Linked DNA regions of Homo sapiens: region 2 is linked to region 1. The links come from fine-mapping of genetic effects on gene expression. A gene starts in region 1. The other region holds a variant in brackets. All regions are shown on one strand. Distances are between the middles of the regions. Region 1 holds the start of MXRA7 (matrix remodeling associated 7). Region 2 overlaps MXRA7 (matrix remodeling associated 7).

Region 1 (8,858 bases):
CGTCACAGAGGCCCACGCTGCCATCACAAAGGACCACGCTGCCATCACAGAGGCCCACTCTGCCATCACAGAGGCCCACGCTGCCGTCACAGAGGCCCACGCTGCCGTCACAGAGGCCCACACTGCCATCACAAAGGACCACACTGCCATCAAAAAGGACCACACTGCCATCAAAAAGGACCACACTGCCATCAAAAAGGACCACACTGCCATCACAAAGGCAGGAGAGATGATGGGGAAGTTCACCTGCTCCTGGGTCATTCTGGGAAGGCTGGGGTCTCTGTAGCTTCCAGAGCCCACACCTATGGTGAACAGGTTGGTGAGGGCAGAGGACACAGGTGGACCTGACAGCAGGGTGACTTCAGGGGAACCAGGGCCAAGTCACATGGTTAAGACAGACAGATGAAGGCTGTGCTACCCACTCAGACCACCACCTCCAGAGTGTCTGAAAAACCAACCCCTTTCCCAAGAAATTTCCCAAAGAAGAATGTTGGCTTCTTTGTTCCAACATTCTCTTTTGAAAAATTCCAAACCTACAGAAAAGTTGAAATAATAATACAATGAATACCATACACCCTTCACCTAGATTCACCAATGGTTAACATTTTGCCATCTTTGCATTCTCTCTCTATACACACACACACTGTGTGTGTGTGTGCATGTAACTATTTGAATCATGACATGTCATCCCAAAATGTTTCAGCCTGCATCTTCCTAAGGATAAGGACATTGTTTACACAGCCATCTGCCGGTATCGTACACAAAAAATTCAGCGTTGATTCAATAAGCTTACCTAACACAGCCATTCATTTAAAAAATGTCTCAATTATCTCCAGTATGTCCTTTATAGCTCCCTTCTCTGATGGAGAATCCAATCAAGGATCAAGATTGTATTTATTTGTCATATTGCTTTAATCTCCTAAATCCCAATTAAATCTAGAAGAGTCTCTGTGTGCTTCATGACACCGGCCCACTGCCTTGCAGGAAGTCCCTACTCTTTTTTTTTTTTTTTTTTTTTTTTTTTTTTTGAGATGGAGTCTCGTTCTGTTGCCCAGGCTGAAGTGCAGTGGCACGATCTTGGCTCAACTGCAACCTCAGCCTCCTGGGTTCAAGTGATTCTCCTGCCTCAGTTTCCTGAGTAGATGGGATGACGTGCACGCCACCATGCCTGGCTAATTTCTGTATTTTTAGTAGAGACGGGGTTTCGCCATGTTGGCCAGGTTGGTCTCGAACTCCTGACCTCAGGTGATCCTCCTGCCTCGGCCTCCCAAAGTGCTGGGATTACAGGTGTGAGCCATCGCGCCCGGGCTCTAGTCTGTCTATGAGCAGAGCTAGGCCCCAAGTACCGAGATACTTGAGTCCTGGCACAGACAAGAAATTTAACTCTAGTGCTATTCAAATGACCCTTGACGCTTTGCCAATTACCAATGTTTGGGAATCCGACCATCCAGCCTTGCTCCAATCCACAAGTCCATTAGGTAAGAGGCCTGGCAATCCTAAAACCCCAACCTACACAGGAGCACCAAGAAAGCCCTGAGTCCTGGCCTGAAAAGAGGCCGGCTCCTGTTCTTGACTTCGTTGGCTCATGATTCTTTGCGTGAACAGGCCTTGCCTATAATGCTTCCTCACAGCCCACCCTGTGCTAATCCTTAGGAGAGAAAAGAGGTTCTAGCAGTATCATTCCGCTTCTCCTCAGCCTCCCTGCCCTGGCCTGTGCTGCCCTGGGGAAGCAAGAGCTGCACTGATCTCATCCCCATTTCTTTGGTCCATTTCCAGGGTCTCGGCCTATAGTAGCCCCTCCCCACTACTTTGTCCTTGGCCAAAGAGGGCACCGTGCACTAGGGGACGCTCCTGAGCGATCCCCAATAGCAGCTGAAGGCTGCTTCCCGGGGCGAGAGATCCTTCTCAATAATCAGCTTTGTAGTCAGAGGCAGCAGCTGCCCCAGCCCGCCCAGGCCTCCCTGGGAAGGGAGAGGACTGGATTAGAAAGGAGGCAGTTAATGGAAAATGAAGAGGGAGGGGAGAGGTGAGTTACACGCTGCTCCCCAGGGCAGTGACTTCCGAGCTAACAGCAGGTGGAGTTGCCCTCCTCCCTCGCTGTTGGTGGGGTTCGCTTAGGGACGGAGGGAGAAGGAGGCTGGCAGAGGGCATAGCCCCACTTCCCAACCCTGATTTGAGTTATCTTCCCCAGGGGGCCTTTCTCCCTATCTGTCCTCCAAGCCCCAGCAGTGTGATCATCAGAAGAAAGCACTGGAAGCTCTTGGAAACGCTGGAGTCCACTTCAGGACAATTTGTTTTCCTTTCTTTTTTTTCTTGTCACTGACTCGAAGCTCATCAAGACAATTTCTAAGCAGCTTCTTAGGTTAATGCCACCACTGGGAGTGGGTGGGATGACACAATATCTGTGTCCCCACAGCACCTGGCTTAATGTTTGCAGGCAGGAGTTTTGGGGGAGCTTTGGCCAGCTCAGGAAGGCCTGGGGACTTGAACCCAAAGGGGAAGGGCACTGACTTCAATTGAATTCTCCTGTGGGGTGGGTTCTCTCTGGAGGGTGCCTTAGCGGGAGGACAGACACAAGCCTCAAGTCATCCTCACTGGCACCTATGTCATGGGGGCTGCCTGGCACGCGAACCCCCATACTGCCTTGTCCTTCAGAGCACCCATTCAGCTTCAGAGGACGTGCATTCACCCAGACAGTGGCAAATTATGCGAGTGGCCCTATTTAAACACCACTGAACCTATTCCTGTAGGTACCATGTGCTGAGAGCCGAAAGCCTTGTAGAAAGTTCTTTAAGCGCTGTGCCCCACAGGATTGAGCTAAGACAGGGCGCCGCTAAAGGACATTTTGCACTTCAGTCCAGAGCCTGGTGTGGGTGATAAAGGGCCAGCCCTGTAAGGCCAGGACTGACTGAGTGTGCATGACGGCTCCAGAACTGTCTAAAGGCCTCTCCTGCTCCCGCGAGACCTCGATGGAGGCAGGAATCCCAAATATGGGAGCAAACACAACAGATCAGCACATGTCCAAACCGCGCCCCCTCCACCATCACCGCGTGAGGTCTGGAAGCCCACCCCAAGCAAGAACGGCAGGGCCTGCCCCTGCTCCACCCCATTAAATGTGGCTGGTTAGAATCCTCTCTAATGACACAATTAGTCACCCACTTGTCAAGCAAAGCGCCTGCTCAGAGGGGGTCTGGCGCACTTACTCAGCAAAGAGAAATGCCTCTGAGCACAGCCTGGCTGCCTCCTCCTCCCCCGAAGGGCTTCTCTCCAGGGTAAACCATTGTGTCCAGCACAGGACAGAGTGGGCACGCAGACACGCAGGCACGCTGACAATGCGCATCCCGGCTCTCCTCCCTTCCAAGAAAAGGAGCTCAGGGGTAAGAACAAGGGATTACAATCCGACTCGGAGACCCTGGCGGTGGCCTGGACCGGCCAAGCGTGGTGAACTCCAGGGAACATGGGCACACAGTGTAGGGGCTGGGATGAGTGGATGAGGGAAATCCGACTCCTCTCAGATATCCACAGGCAGGACAAGGTGGCCAAGGCCGAGCTGATGGACAGCATGGCGGGAGGCCTGGGGCAGAGGCAGGGAGGGCCGCTTTGGGGTGCTCACTGGTGCTCCAGGAGGGCTTTATCCTGCATCTTCACTCCATCCAGGCCCAGCTTACCTACAACCCGGGGGAGTGGGGGTAGGAGGGTGTTAGATGTGTAGCTTGAAAACGACAATAAAAAGGACTGCTGGGATCGGGTGCCTTTTCTTTCAGTCCCAGCCCACGGGCTTCACAAAACGCCACAGCACTGACTCTGAAATCTGGACTTCAAATTGGCTGAAAAAGAAAAGCCAGCTTTCCTCCCTCGCCCCCCGAAAGTCCTACTTTTTAAACATCAAGATAACTCTCATGGCAGGCCTGGAAATAAGCCACAGGCACGTGGATTTGGGAACCGGTGGGCGGGAGGGGTCAGAAGTGGGTGAGGAGCAAAATTCCAAGCCCTGGTCCCGAGGCCTGGGAGCCAGCAGCTGCGGAGCACGCCCTGGGCTGGGAGAGGCCGAGGGGAGGGGAGAGCAAAACACCTCCAAACAAACTCCTTCGGGCTCGCCCCTCGCCACACTTTCTGGGGGAGGGCGGCGAGTTTGCGGGGCTGCGGCTTAGCATGGCGGGACCTGCATTTCCTGCGGGCCGCGGGTTCTGCGCTTCCTGGGGGCAGCCTGGGCTGGAGGCCGCGGCCCCGCTCCCTGGCTCGGCGGGGAACGGCAGCGGCAGCCGGAGCCCCGGGGGTGGGGAGGGGGCCGCGAGGGCCCCGGTGCGTACCTGCCTCGCCTCCACCGCCTGCTCCTCCGCCTCCGCTGGCGCCGCCGCGGGATCCCCTGGCCCTTCGGGCTCCCCCGGTCCCGCAGGCTCCCCGAGCTCCCCCAGCCCCGCGGGCTCTCCAGGCTCCTCCGGCCCCGCGGGCGAGGCCGCCGGCTCGGGGGCGCAGGGGCGGGACGGCGCCGGGGCCCCGGTGGCCTCGGCCGGGGGCGCGGGTTCCGGGGGCGCGCGGGCAGGCTCCGGGCTCGCGGCCGCCCCACGCCGCACCAGTAGCCAGGCGAGCAGAAGGGCCAGCGCGGTGGCCAGCGCAGGCAGCGCGGCCAGTAGCTCGGCCGGCGCCTCCATCGCGCCGCGGCCGCCGAGTGCGGGCCAGCTGGGACCCCGAGGGAGCCCGCCGCGCCCCGTCGCCGCGCCCGGTCGCCGCGCCCCGCCTCGGGGCGGAGCCCCCATCGCCGCGCCCCGCCCCCGCCCCCTCCGGCCCCGGGAGGGTGACGCACAGGCTGCGGGCGGGGGTGTTGAGGGGGCAGAGCCCTGACCACCTGGGAGGCACAGGAGGGCCAACCCCTGCCCGGCCTGGGCAGCCTTGACGCTTTGGGGCACAATTTAGCTCAGGTTCAATTTGAAATACTGTATGAGGTGCCCTTAGGTTGTCATCTTTGGCCTTAGTACGGCGGTTCGTCTTAGAGCATTTTGGAAATGTGGGAATGCAGAGAGACAAGCAAACCCGGGAAGCTTCATGGAAACGGCAGCCTGGATTGGCTTGTAAAGCAATCATAATGCCGGATTACGTTCAGCCACTGCCGTTTTTATAGGCATGTCAGGAGTTGCTTTTAATCCTCAGGGTTGCCTTAATGCACTTTCACAGAGGACATCTCCAGATCCCGGCCAGTGAATGCTCCCTTCGGAGCTGAGGCCAGCAGCCTTCAACACAGGCCTCCCTGTTAACAGTAACATGGCTCCCCCGCCCCTAGACCTGAAATTCAGCTGCAGGTCCTTGGTCAACGCTATTCCTCTTACCAGACTTTCTTCTTTGCACAATTCCAGAATGCATGCAGGGTGGGAGGGTACAATGAAGGAAATGAAGGCTATTGTTTTTGTTTCTCCAGATCCTCCCAGGCCTCTGTTGCTGAACAGTGGATTTTGAGATAAACACGTTGTAACCAAAAACATACTTTCCTACCACTCCCCACCCACTCTTTAGTTATTTTAAATAAACACAGGACGGGCATGTCAGGTATCACGCCAAACATAAGGCCTAATGTTAAAAAAAACACGGTTCCAGTTTTTGCTGAGGATGCCTTTAATACTTTTTTGGGAATATTACAGTGCCTGAGCTGATCTGTGATATAAACCAGATATTAGATGGAGTGCTTCTTTTTAAATGAAGATACACAAACGAGACCCCTCAGCAACAGGGAGAGCTGAATTCTGCTGCACTGCACGATATTAAGCGGGCCATGCACTTCCTTTTAGTGGTGGTTGATGAAAAGAGCCTATAAACTATAAAATGTGAAATAGGCTTTATCTACGGGCGACTAGCTTTTAACCACTGTGGAAGTTTCAGCCAGTGTATGGGCCTATTTTTTTTCTTTTGAGATGGAGTCTTATTCTGTTGCCCAGGCTGGAGTGCAGTGGCGCAATCGCGGCTCACTGCAACCTCCACCTCCCGGGTTCAAGCGAAACTCCCACCTCAGCCTCCTGAGTAGCTGGGATTACAGGCGCCCACCACCATGCCCGGCTAATTTTTTTCTGTTTTTAGTAGACAGGGTTTCACCGTGTTGGCCAGACTGGTCTTGAACTCCTGACCTCAGGCAATCTGCCTGCCTCAGCCTCCCAAAGTGTTGGGATTACAGGCGTGAGCCTCCGCGCCCAGCCAATTTTTTTTTTTTTTTTTTAAAGAGACAGGGTCTTTCTTTCTTTTTTTTTTTTTAAAGAGACAGGGTCTCACTATGTTGCCCAGGCTGGAGTGCAGTGGCTATTCACAGGCATGATCATAGCTTTCTGCAGCCTCGACATCCTGGGCTCAAGTGATCCTCCTGCCTTAGCCTCTTGGGCAGCTGGGATTACAGGTGTGCATCAATGCTCCTGGCCCAGGGCCTTAATTTTGTGCTCCATCCCATTGTTTTAAAGTGTAAATACATTTTTTTAAAGTCCTGTTCTGCTGACAAAGTACATTGTTGACTTTCAAATGAGTAAGAAAGAAAATAAGGACAAAACAATGCCAAAAACACAACTCCAAATCATGTTGCTTTATTTAAAATGATGAACAAGTTTCACCCAAGTGAAAGTTTAAAATACCAACCCAATAGCAGATCCACAGGCTTTCATGGCAGACCCCATGGCTAGACGGACGCAGAACTAGGAGACTGCTCAGTGTTCTGACAACTCCAGGAGGCACGAGTGTGCAGAAGACAGTCCCAGTTCTTCTGTAGCATCCAGTCACTTTGGAGACAGCTGGCCAGGGCTAGCTCTCCTCCCAGGAGGTTCACTGGGGCTTAGATGACATTTCTTTTTTTTTAAAGACAGAGTCTCGGTCTGTCACCCAGGCTGGAGTGGCTTGATCTCAGCTCACTGCAACCTCTGCCTCCTGGGTTCAAGTGATTCTCCTGCCTGAGTTGACCAAGTAGCTGGGACTACAGGCATGTGCCACCACACCTGGCTAATTTTTGTATTTTTAGTAGAGACGGGGTTTCACCGTGTTGGCCAGGCTGGTCTTGAACTCCTGACCTCAAGTGATCCACCTGCCATGGCCTCCCAAAGTGCTGGGATTACAGGGGTGAGCTACGGCGCCTGGCCGAAATTTCTGAACAATGAGACAAAGTTGAGAGCCACCGCCTGGGGGTGCAAGCTCACCTAGTTTTGCTGCATAGGATGTCACATCTTGACACAAGCTAGTGGGAGGGGAGTGTGGAAGAAGCCGCCAGACTCCACTTCAAATCTACCAGCAATACCAGTACACACATCAAAAACAACTTACTCGTGGAAATACTACAGACAATCTAAAGAACCTACAGCTGGGGCATCCTTATACGCCTTCCTCCTACACAGCATTTTTTACATTTACTGCAAAAATTTTGTTCCATCCTATACTCGTCTAAAGTCCTAAATCCAAGGCTCAGTCTCTAGTAAGCTTATAAAGCATTTGCACCAGCAACCTTCCCACAGATCCTTAGTTTTGCTACTTTATGAAGAAGCTGTTACTACCTTAAGTATACATTGGTGTTAATTATGCTCTTTCATGTAGATCCGTTACACCTGCATTTAAGAAGGTCTGCACTTTCTTCTACCTGCCCTCACCAGCGGCCCTGTGAACAGCCGCAACAGCCGCACATTCACTGTCCATTAAGCTTGTGGAGCTTGTCAGGGACCTGGGCTTGTCACCGTTATCTCCAGCACCTCAAGAGCAGTGCCTGGCCCTCAAACACCTATTGAACGCTTGAATTATTAAGACACGGACAGCTGCAAGAATACAGCAAAATGTGAATGTCCCTCTTTTCAGTGGCTCTCCCCTCAAGGATGTCACCCTAAACATCCCAGTACCACTAATGGCAGAGGCATGTGTGTGAAGCATGGATTCTTCCAGCTGATGGTGAAGCCTCATCCCCAAAGACCCAGGGTCCTCCTGATGTTCTAGGTCCCCAACTCTTCTCTCTCCCACTCTGGTCCTTCCATCAGAAGTTAATAATCCAAGATCCCTTCTTCCAGGACCCAGCTCTTTGGTTTTAAGATCTGCTGTCATCTTGGAGAATCATCCCTGAAAATAATCTAACATTATCTCCTTCACTTTACTGTTGTTGGCACCATTCAATGGAGTAGCTCACGCCAGATGGGAAGAGGAGTTAACTTCTGAACAAGTGGTCTCTGGGTACCCACTCTTCCTAGTCTACCTTGGCCACCCGCCACCACTCCACTCCTTTTCCACACACGGTTTCCCCACCTTGCCCCTGTTGTGCTTACATAACGGACAGCCTGGCTAGCCCACAGAGACAGTAACGGGGGTTGGGGAATAGGGCTGCTGAATCCCTGGCCTGGCAGGAATAAACAAAGCATGTCCCAGGAGCACAGAATCTGTACTATCCAGACACTGTACTATCCAGAGCTGACTTGGGCCTATCAGATATGTTATTCCCCTCATTTCTGGAATACTGTTATCAAACAGGAATCAACTTTAGCATCTGGAGAAAGAAAACTGGGTGGCTAATCTTTATTTTCTAGATTATTATTTTTTTGAGAGATGGGATCTCACTATGTTGCCCAGACTGGTCTTGAACTCCTGGACTCAAGCAATCCCCCTGCCTCAGCTTCCCAAAGTGCTGGGATTACAGGTGTGAGCCACTGCACCTGGCCTTGGTGGCTAATTTTTAAAATTCAAAATTTCTGCTCCCCTATCCAGACCACTGGCAACGTGTCCTACCACGCCCCCTGGTGGCAAAGAGCCTTTTTGGGCTGTTTTTTATTTTAAACTGAAGTTTAGAGGAGTTGTTGATAGAAAACTGAAAGGAAGGTAAGGAAAAAGGGCAAGCGTGGCAGCACAGGAGCAATGCTGGGAAA
Region 2 (8,858 bases), 26 kb before region 1:
CAGCTTAACAAAGTGACCCACAGGAACAGACATGAACATCTCTACACAGGGCAGGGCCAAAGGTGTTCCCAGGATCCTGCTAGCCAAGGGACAAGTCCTGATTGAGGGTCTAGAGCTCAGCAGATTTATGGAGGCAGCATGCACCCTGGGAGCCTGCCCAGACTCCTCTCTGGGGTTTCCGTTTTATCTCTCAAGCTTTTAAGATGCCAAAAGGAAAAGCCTTTAGGAGGACGCTAAGGATAACTTCGTTATTCTTCAGTTCTGTAAAGAGAAATGGGGAGAAAAAGATAATTTATTTTACTCATTCCATCCTGCACCATGGGCAAGGAAAGGGGGAAATGGGGACGAGGAAGGAGAATGTTTGGAATTGCAGAAGCTGCGCTAGACTCTGGTTTCTCAAACCACTGCTGATTTGCTTCTCATCGCTTGCAGCAAGACAGTCTGTGCCGCCAAGCCGGCCAGAGCTTGCAGAGCTCCCCTTGATCCCGCACAGAACCTGGCAGCCCACAGACCCTGTTCAGCCTCTGCAGGGTACTTAAGGAAGGAACTTGGGCATTTGAGTTGCCAAGGGCCTTTCTGATCTTGGGTTGTGTGGTTGTGCTGACAATATTCCTATCACCCTAGATAATTTCCCATTCCCGCTGGCTGAGTTTTGTCCCCTCGGGGGATACTGGCACCCTAGGATGCACGCTTCCAGATGGAGCCAACTGCATGCCCGTCTTTTATGAACCAAGACACACTGCCAGCCCTGGGACCACTGAGAACCCAGCAGGTCTGATCTTGTCCCTCTGACGCCCTCTCCTGGTGGTCACAGTCAGCACGCATTTCCAGCCTGAGCTGGAAATTCACACTGGCAGGTCTATTGTCTGTAGTTTCTTGCATACATCAGATGGAAGAACCAGAACTACCCCACAGCTGGGGTTCCTTGGCCTCCTCCTCCCCTTCCCTGTTTTACCACACTAGCACCTTCCTCTAGAGTCATGTCCATTTCCAGAGGAGTCAAGACAGCCCTGCAGACCTCAAATGGAGGGGTGGGTCCTGATCTATCAGAGCCAGCCCAGTCTATAGCCTGGGTTCATTTTCCCTCTGAGACCACAAGGTGGGAAGAAGTGATGGAGAGGAGCTGACAGCCGCGCCTGTTCTTTCTCCTGCCAAGCTGTGAAGCCAGCCAAGCCCTGCCAGCTTCCCTAGCTCTGGGGGAGGAGGAGGAGGCCTCTTGCTCAGGGGAGCTGTCACCAGCCTGCAAGCCCACTGTCCTAGCCACACTGTGAAACTGGAGGTGGCACTTCCCACAGCAGCTTCAGCGGAACCCAGGGACGCCACCAGAGGCATGAAGTGTGTGAAACTCCGGCCCGAGGGGAGAGCTGAGGAGGCGGGCAGACAGTGGCAAGCAGGATCTTAAGCAGCAGCTGCCTCTGGATTTACAGACCTGACCGCTTTCTGGCCCCAGGCGGAAGGAATTTGATCTGTGAGTAGTTCAAGGATGAGACTGACCACTTCAGCATGTCGGGGAACTAATTGGGGGCCTTCTGCTTCCAGTCCCACTTCCTAATTGTCATGAGAGCCTGTGAACTGAAGCTCCTGGGGAGTGCTGGAACTGGCAACCACTAAAGCTTCAGGTTCTAGATGCAGATCTGTTGGCTGAGCTAGTAAATTTAAAGTTAGGGGACGTGCAGCTTGTAGCTGCAACTCGACTGGACCCTGAGAGCTGGGAAAGGCATCAGAGGCATGGAGGCCGGGAGGGTGGAACCTGACAGGCGGAGAGAGAGCACCCTGCTAGCTGGCCTGTGGTTTTAGTGGTTTGATAACAACAGGCATGTTATTTTTCATACTGATGATTCTAGGGCGGTTCCCTGGACTTGGCTGGGACCAGAACTGTCTCACAGCTGCCAGCGCTCCCCACCCCCATGAGAACCATCGTGCTGAAGATGAAGAGCCAAAGCCAAACTGACCAGCCTCTGCAACCCCAAGCATCACCGTGTGAGGACAGCGTGATGTGGAGCCGCGGAGACCCCACGCAGTGCTGCGAGGGGCAACCACATGCAGGGGGGCAGAGGTGTGGGGGAGCAAGCAGATGCCACCGGCATGCCTAGGAGCCACAGGGAGCATGCGGGCTGGGCAGTGATGGGAATGAACGTGAACTCCAGTCCTGCCCCAAGAAGTCCTCCGGCCCCTCCTTCTCAATTCAGGGCACAAAGTGGTAACTGCAGCATGCAGAGGAGTCGAGGAGTCTTCCCTCGTCCCAGGAGCAGCACCTCGGGCACAGTCTCGGTCCCACAGAACAGCCAAGTGTGGGTTGGTGGTCTAGAGACCTCCAAAGATCCAGTGGGGGAAGGATGGGCAGCAGAGGGTCTACTCTCTGAAAATAAGGGGAAGGGATTTTCCCTCCCCACTGCCAAGGTCCCAGCTCTGGACGTGGGTGGCAGTGGCAGTTTCACCCCCAGCCGGAGGCCTGGTCTTTCTTGTTCTAAGAGGCCCTCCAGATCCATCTGCCTGAGCAGCCTCTGTCCCCAGGGACCTTCAAGGGCTGGCAGTTGTGTCCAGCCCCCTCTAGCCTCTGTCCAGGGACTGCAACCTTTTTCTGCAAACAGCCAGATACTACTTAGATTTGGGGGGCTGTGTGGTCTCTGCTGCAGTGACTCACCTCGGCCACTGCGGCACAAAGAGGCACAGACCACAGGAAAATGGGTGAGTGTTGCTACTACTGCCACGCTGGATTGGCACAGGCAGGTGGGGGATCAGATGTGGCCCGGCCGTTGTCTGCTAACCCTTGCCCTGATCCTAAGAACCTGCCTGTCTCACAGCTTGGGAGCACGGACCGTTCTCAGAGTATCTGCTGTGCACTGTGCAGAAGCTGCCTCATCTTCTCAGGGTGAGACCCAAGGCTGCAGGGTGACGACATCCACATTTCCGAAGCCTGAGGTCCCAGGGTGACAGTTCCCCCAGCCTTGCGAGGGGGCGCTAGCACCCCAACCTGCCGGCCCATTAGGCCCCCTCCAGGAACTCAGGGACTTAACTCCCCTCCAGGAACCTCTGCCCCCAGACGGGGCCTCTTCTGCCAGAGATTCCTCGTGCTTGAGAAGAATGAGAAGGGCTCAGGTGGGAAATGTATTAATCGGTTATGAAGGCGATGGAGGAGGGGAGGTTGAGGCCGCGTCAGTTGTTTGGGGGCACGTTAGCACGCAGTAGAAGGGGAGCACCACTAGTCTAAGAAATCAGTGTCCTTACCAAAAGGATTTGCAAGAATATTTGTGGCTCAGGACCTAAGGAACTTGCTACAGGGAAGTGAGGTCAGAGGTCAGCTCAATCCTGAAATATAAATGCAGCAAACCTGGTCATGCCAAGCGGCAGCATCCTCAGCACCTGAGGACTCGGGGCTCCTGCCAGGGCTCTTCCTCCTGGCTGTGCTTACACTGCCCGCCCCCCACCCACCCAGGGTGAAGAGCTTTCCTGCTGAGGGTCGAGAGCGCTGATGCCAGCAGCGGGAGGGGAGACAGGGCCTGTCACCGGCAGAGCAGCTGTGAGGTTAGAGGGCTGCCCGGCGGGTGGCTTGGCATGCAGCCATGAGAGGGCAGTTGAGTTCTGATTCCAAAATCATAAACCACCCCTCCTGCTCGGACCCTAGACCGCTGGTTTCTGCTGACAAGTAGGGGGTGATTCCCACAAGCTGCTCTGGGTCGCCAGGCTTGGAAAATGGCACAGCTACCACCTAGACTTCTGCTTTAACCAAAGGACTCCAGGCCACGCTGCAGAAGGGCAGCAGTGTGGGTGAGCACCAGGAGCCTGCTGCGCCTGGTGCAAAGGACTGTCCCTCTGCTGAGACCTCCCCAGCTGTCCCACTGTGCCCAGCGCACCCCTTCCCCGCCCAGCAGGATGGTGTGGAGGGAAAAGGTGGCGGGGTGCCCAGTGGCTGTGCAGGGGGTGTCCAAATGGGAAGGGGGAGCCAATTCCAACAACGAGAAGCCATAGCTGCACTGCCCGGAGCTACAAGGCGCTGCTGCAGGCGCCGGCCTGGGAGGCCGCTGAAGGATGAGCACCAAGAATCCGCTGTGTCCCGAAGGAGAAATGGAGAAATCAGCTCTGTTGGGGACTGTGTGTGTGAGTGACAGCCAGGTCTGCTCCAGGCTCTTTCCTGGCATCTCATTTCTTTAGATGGGGGCAGTGGGGTGTGGAGGGGGTGGGGGGGTGCAGTAAATGGGCTCTGTATCCCCCATCACCAGTGGCCTCCTTCTGGTCAGTGCCAGGGAGGGGTGCCAGGGGTGTGCGAGCCTGGCTGACCAGGGCAGGAAAGAACTCCTAAACTGGGAAGGTGGGGCGGTGGTTGGGCAGAGCGTGTAGGAGCCCCACCTCCTTTCTGGGCCCTTCTGCCAAGGGGCAGGAACATGAAGGGCTCAGAGGGGCACCCCCCTCCCCCAAGAGCCCGCCAGGCGCCAGCGAAGGGGCTGCAGCCTACCTCTGCTCCTCCTCCAGCTCCTCTTTGGTCATCATCTTCTTGTACTGGTTTCCCCTCAGCTTCCCGGGGCTGTATTTGAAGGAGAAGCCTTCTCCTGTGGAGGGGGGACCCAGTAAGTGCCAGGAGTGCTGTAGAGGCTGGCCCCACAAACCCCGGCCCCCTTTCCCTAGGTTTAAAAAGAAACACCTCAAGCAGAGGCCACATCTGGCTATCAGAGACATCTCACCCCAGCGCCTATACCCCCTCTCGTTCCATAGCTTTCCCTTAAATCCTACAACGAGACAGCCAGAGAGAAAGCAGTCCTACTCCTAGTCCACAGCTGTCTCCAGATGCCACATCCCTCCCAACATCTGCAGTGCTCTGCCTTGCCCTGGCCCTGCCCAGCAGGTCCTCTCGGCTACTGAGCTCAGAGGCGACAACTCCGGCAAGCAGAGCACAGCTCATCTTGGGACACACACCACGCCTGCCTGGGCTTGGGGAGGCTTGTGTCATCCCCCCACCCCCTGTGGCTATTGGAAATCTGAAAACACGCATCCAGGCAGCCCACAGTGGCCAGGCCAGGGATGCGGGATTTGCTGCAGCAGGTTTGACGTGTGTAC[C/T]GCTGAAGAGGCAGAGCCCGATTTGCCAGTCCCCGAGGGGAGACCCCCCATTGCTGCCTGCAAAAAACGGACAGATCTCGAGGCCTGAAGAGGGCACATGGATGGGTAGGTGGTGGGCACAGAGGAAGCCAGGACCTGTGGCCTGGAGTGGACACAGGCTCCGGGCACATGAGCCACGGTGAGGAGAGAAAAGCTGAGCTTCCAGAGGGAAAAGCCCCATGGGGGAGCAACCTCTTGGTTCCTGAATCCAGCAGGTGTCGGGCAGAGCTGGCTGGCCTCTTATCGACCTCCACTAACTAAAGGACCCAGTGAGGGAGGCATAGAGAGATCCTCAGCTGCTATTCTGGAAGTGCTGCCCTCTCTGTCCCTCCATATCCTGTCCAGCAGCCCGAAAAGCCAGGCCCCTCCCCTCTAGCTTGCAGCCTTCATGCTACCGGATAGGCTGATGTGGACCGATGGGGAGGCGGGGGGGCTCTCAGGGTGAAAGGAAGAAGGTTCTAGATGCGAATTCAGAACCCAAACATCTGGTTGGGTGTGGTGGCTCATGCCTGTAATCCCAGCACCTTGGGAGGCCAAGGCAGGTGGATCACTTGAGGCCAGGAGTTCGAGACCAACCTGGCCAATGTGGCAAAACCCCGTCTCTACTAAAAATACAAAAAATTAGCCGGGCGTGGTGGCAGGCGCCTGTAATCCCAGCTACTCAGGAGGCTGAGGCAGGAGAATCGCTTGAACCCGGGAGGCAGAGGTTGCAGTGAGCCGAGATCGCGCCACTGTACTCCAGCCTGGGCAATAGAGTAAGATTCCAGTATCCCCCTACCCCCCAAAAAAAGAAAACATACAAAATCCTGCCTTGGTCCCAGTCTTAGGTTTCAATTTATGGGGCAAGTCTGATTAGTTTTGTTTTCTGAGCCAGACAGAACAAACGACTTGAAAAGGATTTCGCTCAGTCACATGCAGTGCACCAGGCAGCGCATCCAGTTTTGCTAGACCAGAATTCAACGTGACAGCCTCCGAGGGACGGGGGAGGTTTCTTCCTCCAGTCTCCTGTGAATTCACCTAGTCGCTCAGGGAAGTCATTTTAGCGACACTAATAATTAACCTCTGAGGCTGCCTCGTACTGCAGAGGGGCTGGAGGTGCTCACACATTCTTCCAACAGCTGGAGCCATAAACCTTTCCTTTCCCTGCCTTGCTAGAGATGGCAGGAGGCTAAGATGGCAGGAGGCGCTGGGGGTGGGGGATGTTCAGGAGCAGCGGTGCAGATAAGGGGGGAGGCTGGTGACAGTGCTGGGGGACTGTGCCCTCTGGCAGCTATGCCAGGGAGAGGGGTCTGCGAGCCTCTCTCCTTGTCCTTGCCAAAGGGCCTCCCTCCCGTGTCCCCAAGTCACTAACAGGATCCCTGCATCCCTTCAGCTGTCTCAGGCCACATGGCAGGGACAGATGCCAGGGCCATGGCTGCGGTGAGTCCCCAGTCCCCAAAAGCAGGGAGCAAGGGTCCTTCCTGGTAAGGGACTAATGTCCCCACCTGCAGCCCACCGCCTGCACCCAAGCTTCATTCTCCCCTCCTGCTTCAGGCTGTGCTGATGGAAACCAAGGCACTGCCTCAGGGGAAGCTCTGCACCCCAGCCCAGCCTGCCCGCAGGAGCTGGTTCCTACATTCCTGAAACCTTCTCTTTCCACTGCTCCTGCCAGCAGCCGACTTAACATCACAAAAGCAGACTTGCTTTTTTAAAATTATGAAATATTTCAAACATACAAAAATGCAGAAAGCACTAATCCTCCCTGTGCTTGCCACACAGAGCCAACAAACGCTGACATCTTGCATGTCTGCCTCCGCTTTCTTTTTTAGAGAAATAAGTGGATGGACCCAGCAGAAGCCACTCCATGTTTGGTTCCGCCTCTGTCTGTCCTGGCCGGGTCCGATCTGGCAGTGTCTCCCCTGTTCTCGGTCACTCCCTTTCTCCTCTCAGTCTCATGGCTGGGGCCTGTGGCCAGTCAGCCAGAGCTGCTTAGAAAGCAGGCGTGTGCCCTCCTGGGGCCTTCGTTCTGAAGAAGGCACGGGGGAGGCCGTGTGAGTGGTTTTCGTCTCAGTAAAATAGGTCAGAGATGTTTGGAGAGAATCGTGAAATGTACAGCGCGGTCACAAAAGGGGAGTTAGGAGGCAGCGCAGGACAGAGCCAGGCAGGGCGTGTAGTGTGTTCCCAAGAGGGGCCCCGGGATGGGAAAGCCAAGCCCCAAAGTGCAATGGGGGTGAGGGAGGGCTACAGGCAGGCCAGGGCAGGACATCCATGGCGCCAGACTCTACCTCTCATGCCCCACTCAGGCCACTGTCCCACCCCATCCCTCCCCTCGGCACTCGAACCCCAGCTCCTGTGATCCCCAGCAGGACACAGACCACCCCCGACACTGTCAGGCCCCCTCATGAGCGCAGAGGTCCCACTCACCGTCCTCCTCCTCAGGCCCTTCCGATGATGGCCCCTTCTCACCATCCAAGTCCTGCTCCTCTTCCTGCAAGACAAGGACAGGGTCAGTGCCCTTGGCACAGACTGGGTGATGGGAAGTGGTGGGGGGGCAGAAGGTAGGGGAGACAGAGGAGGCCCTCGAAGGTCCAGCCTGCCCACGCCCTGTGGCAGCGCCTGCCCTGTGGTCATGGTCAACCAGCAGGTGGGGGCTGTGTACAAACGATGGGCCAAAGTGACTCGGCTCACAAATGCTGAGCTGAGGCGTGTTCTTGACTGTGCACCCCAAGCCCTCGGCCTTGGCCTTTCCCAGGTGGGTGCCTGTTGAGGCTTCTGTGTGCCATTTGGAGAAGTGGGCCCAGGACTCCCACTGCGACGCTGCGGCCAGCAGACAAAGGGTGCAAGAGGAAAGCTGGCTGGGGTGTCTGTCTGGGACCAGGGCCAGGCAGCATGGCCATCGCAGCCTCTGGCTTTGCTTCCTTCTATGTTGTTTTCCATCCCCAACTCTCTCAGTGTCCATGTTCCCAAAACTGGAGCCCCACCTCTTCAGCCAGTTCTCTCCCACACAGAGACACAATAAACAGATGATCAGAGGAATGGCCCGGGATGGCCTTGGTGGAAGGAAGAAGTGACTTCAGCTTGCAGGAATGTCAGAGGATGAGAGCGACGTGCCGTGCCCATGGGCTCTGTGGGATTGAAGGTCATGGGGAGGGGACATGGGAGCCCCAGGAACTTCAACTTGGAAGCCCAGTGGGTAGATGTGGAAATGAATGAATGAGCAGCCCCAGCTGATCCCATGGAGCCCAGCCAGCGTCGGCCGCTCACGGGAGGCTCCCTAACAAAACACTGAGCTGTGCCGGGAGGCAAAGTTTTTACAAGCCCCACAGCGGGTCGGAAGTGGCAAACCCAGAGGGGCCTTGAGCTCCTCTGAGTGACTTTTTGTTTGTTTGGTTTCTGTTTTTTTCTGAGTGTGTTTCTGAGACAGAGTTTTGGCTCTTGTTGCCCAGGCTGGCGTGCAGTGGCGCGATCTCGGCTCACTGCAACGTCTGCCTCCTGGGTTTAAGCGATTCTCCTGCCTCAGCCTCCCGAGTAGCTGGGATTACGGGCGCCCGCCACCCAAGCCCAGCTAATTTTTTTGTGTTTTCAGTAGAGATGGCATGTCACCATGTTGGCCGGGCTGGTCTCGAACCCCTGACCTCAGGTGATCCGCCTGCCTCGGCCTCCCAGAGTGTTGGGATTACAGGAGTGAGCCACTGTGCCTGGCCTGAGGGACTTCCTTGACTACACAAAATGCTGCCTGGGGGGAGCTGCGCAGGCAACACAGCGTCTTCCCTGTTGGGCACTTTGTA

What was found. PIP is the estimated chance that this variant, and not a neighbour inherited with it, causes the effect.
Region 2: its variant is fine-mapped to the expression of MXRA7 in lung (TOPMed, PIP above 0.99).

The regions. Positions count from the first base shown.
Region 1 is chr17:76,706,295-76,715,152 of GRCh38, forward strand. MXRA7 (matrix remodeling associated 7) reads right to left here and starts at 4,671. Exons shown (of 4, transcript NM_198530.4): 1 at 4,311-4,671. The coding sequence starts at 4,652. It also overlaps a transcript of JMJD6 not described here. RefSeq lists a silencer at 4,693-4,902.
Region 2 is chr17:76,680,619-76,689,476 of GRCh38, forward strand. MXRA7 (matrix remodeling associated 7) reads right to left here. Exons shown (of 4, transcript NM_198530.4): 2 at 7,495-7,558; 3 at 4,454-4,547; 4 at 1-261. The coding sequence ends at 249. Among named protein-coding and RNA genes, the nearest start is that of MXRA7, 26 kb to the right of the region's middle. RefSeq lists enhancers at 1,811-2,357, 3,451-3,995, 5,978-6,773. The variant C/T (reference allele first, on the strand shown) is at 5,053.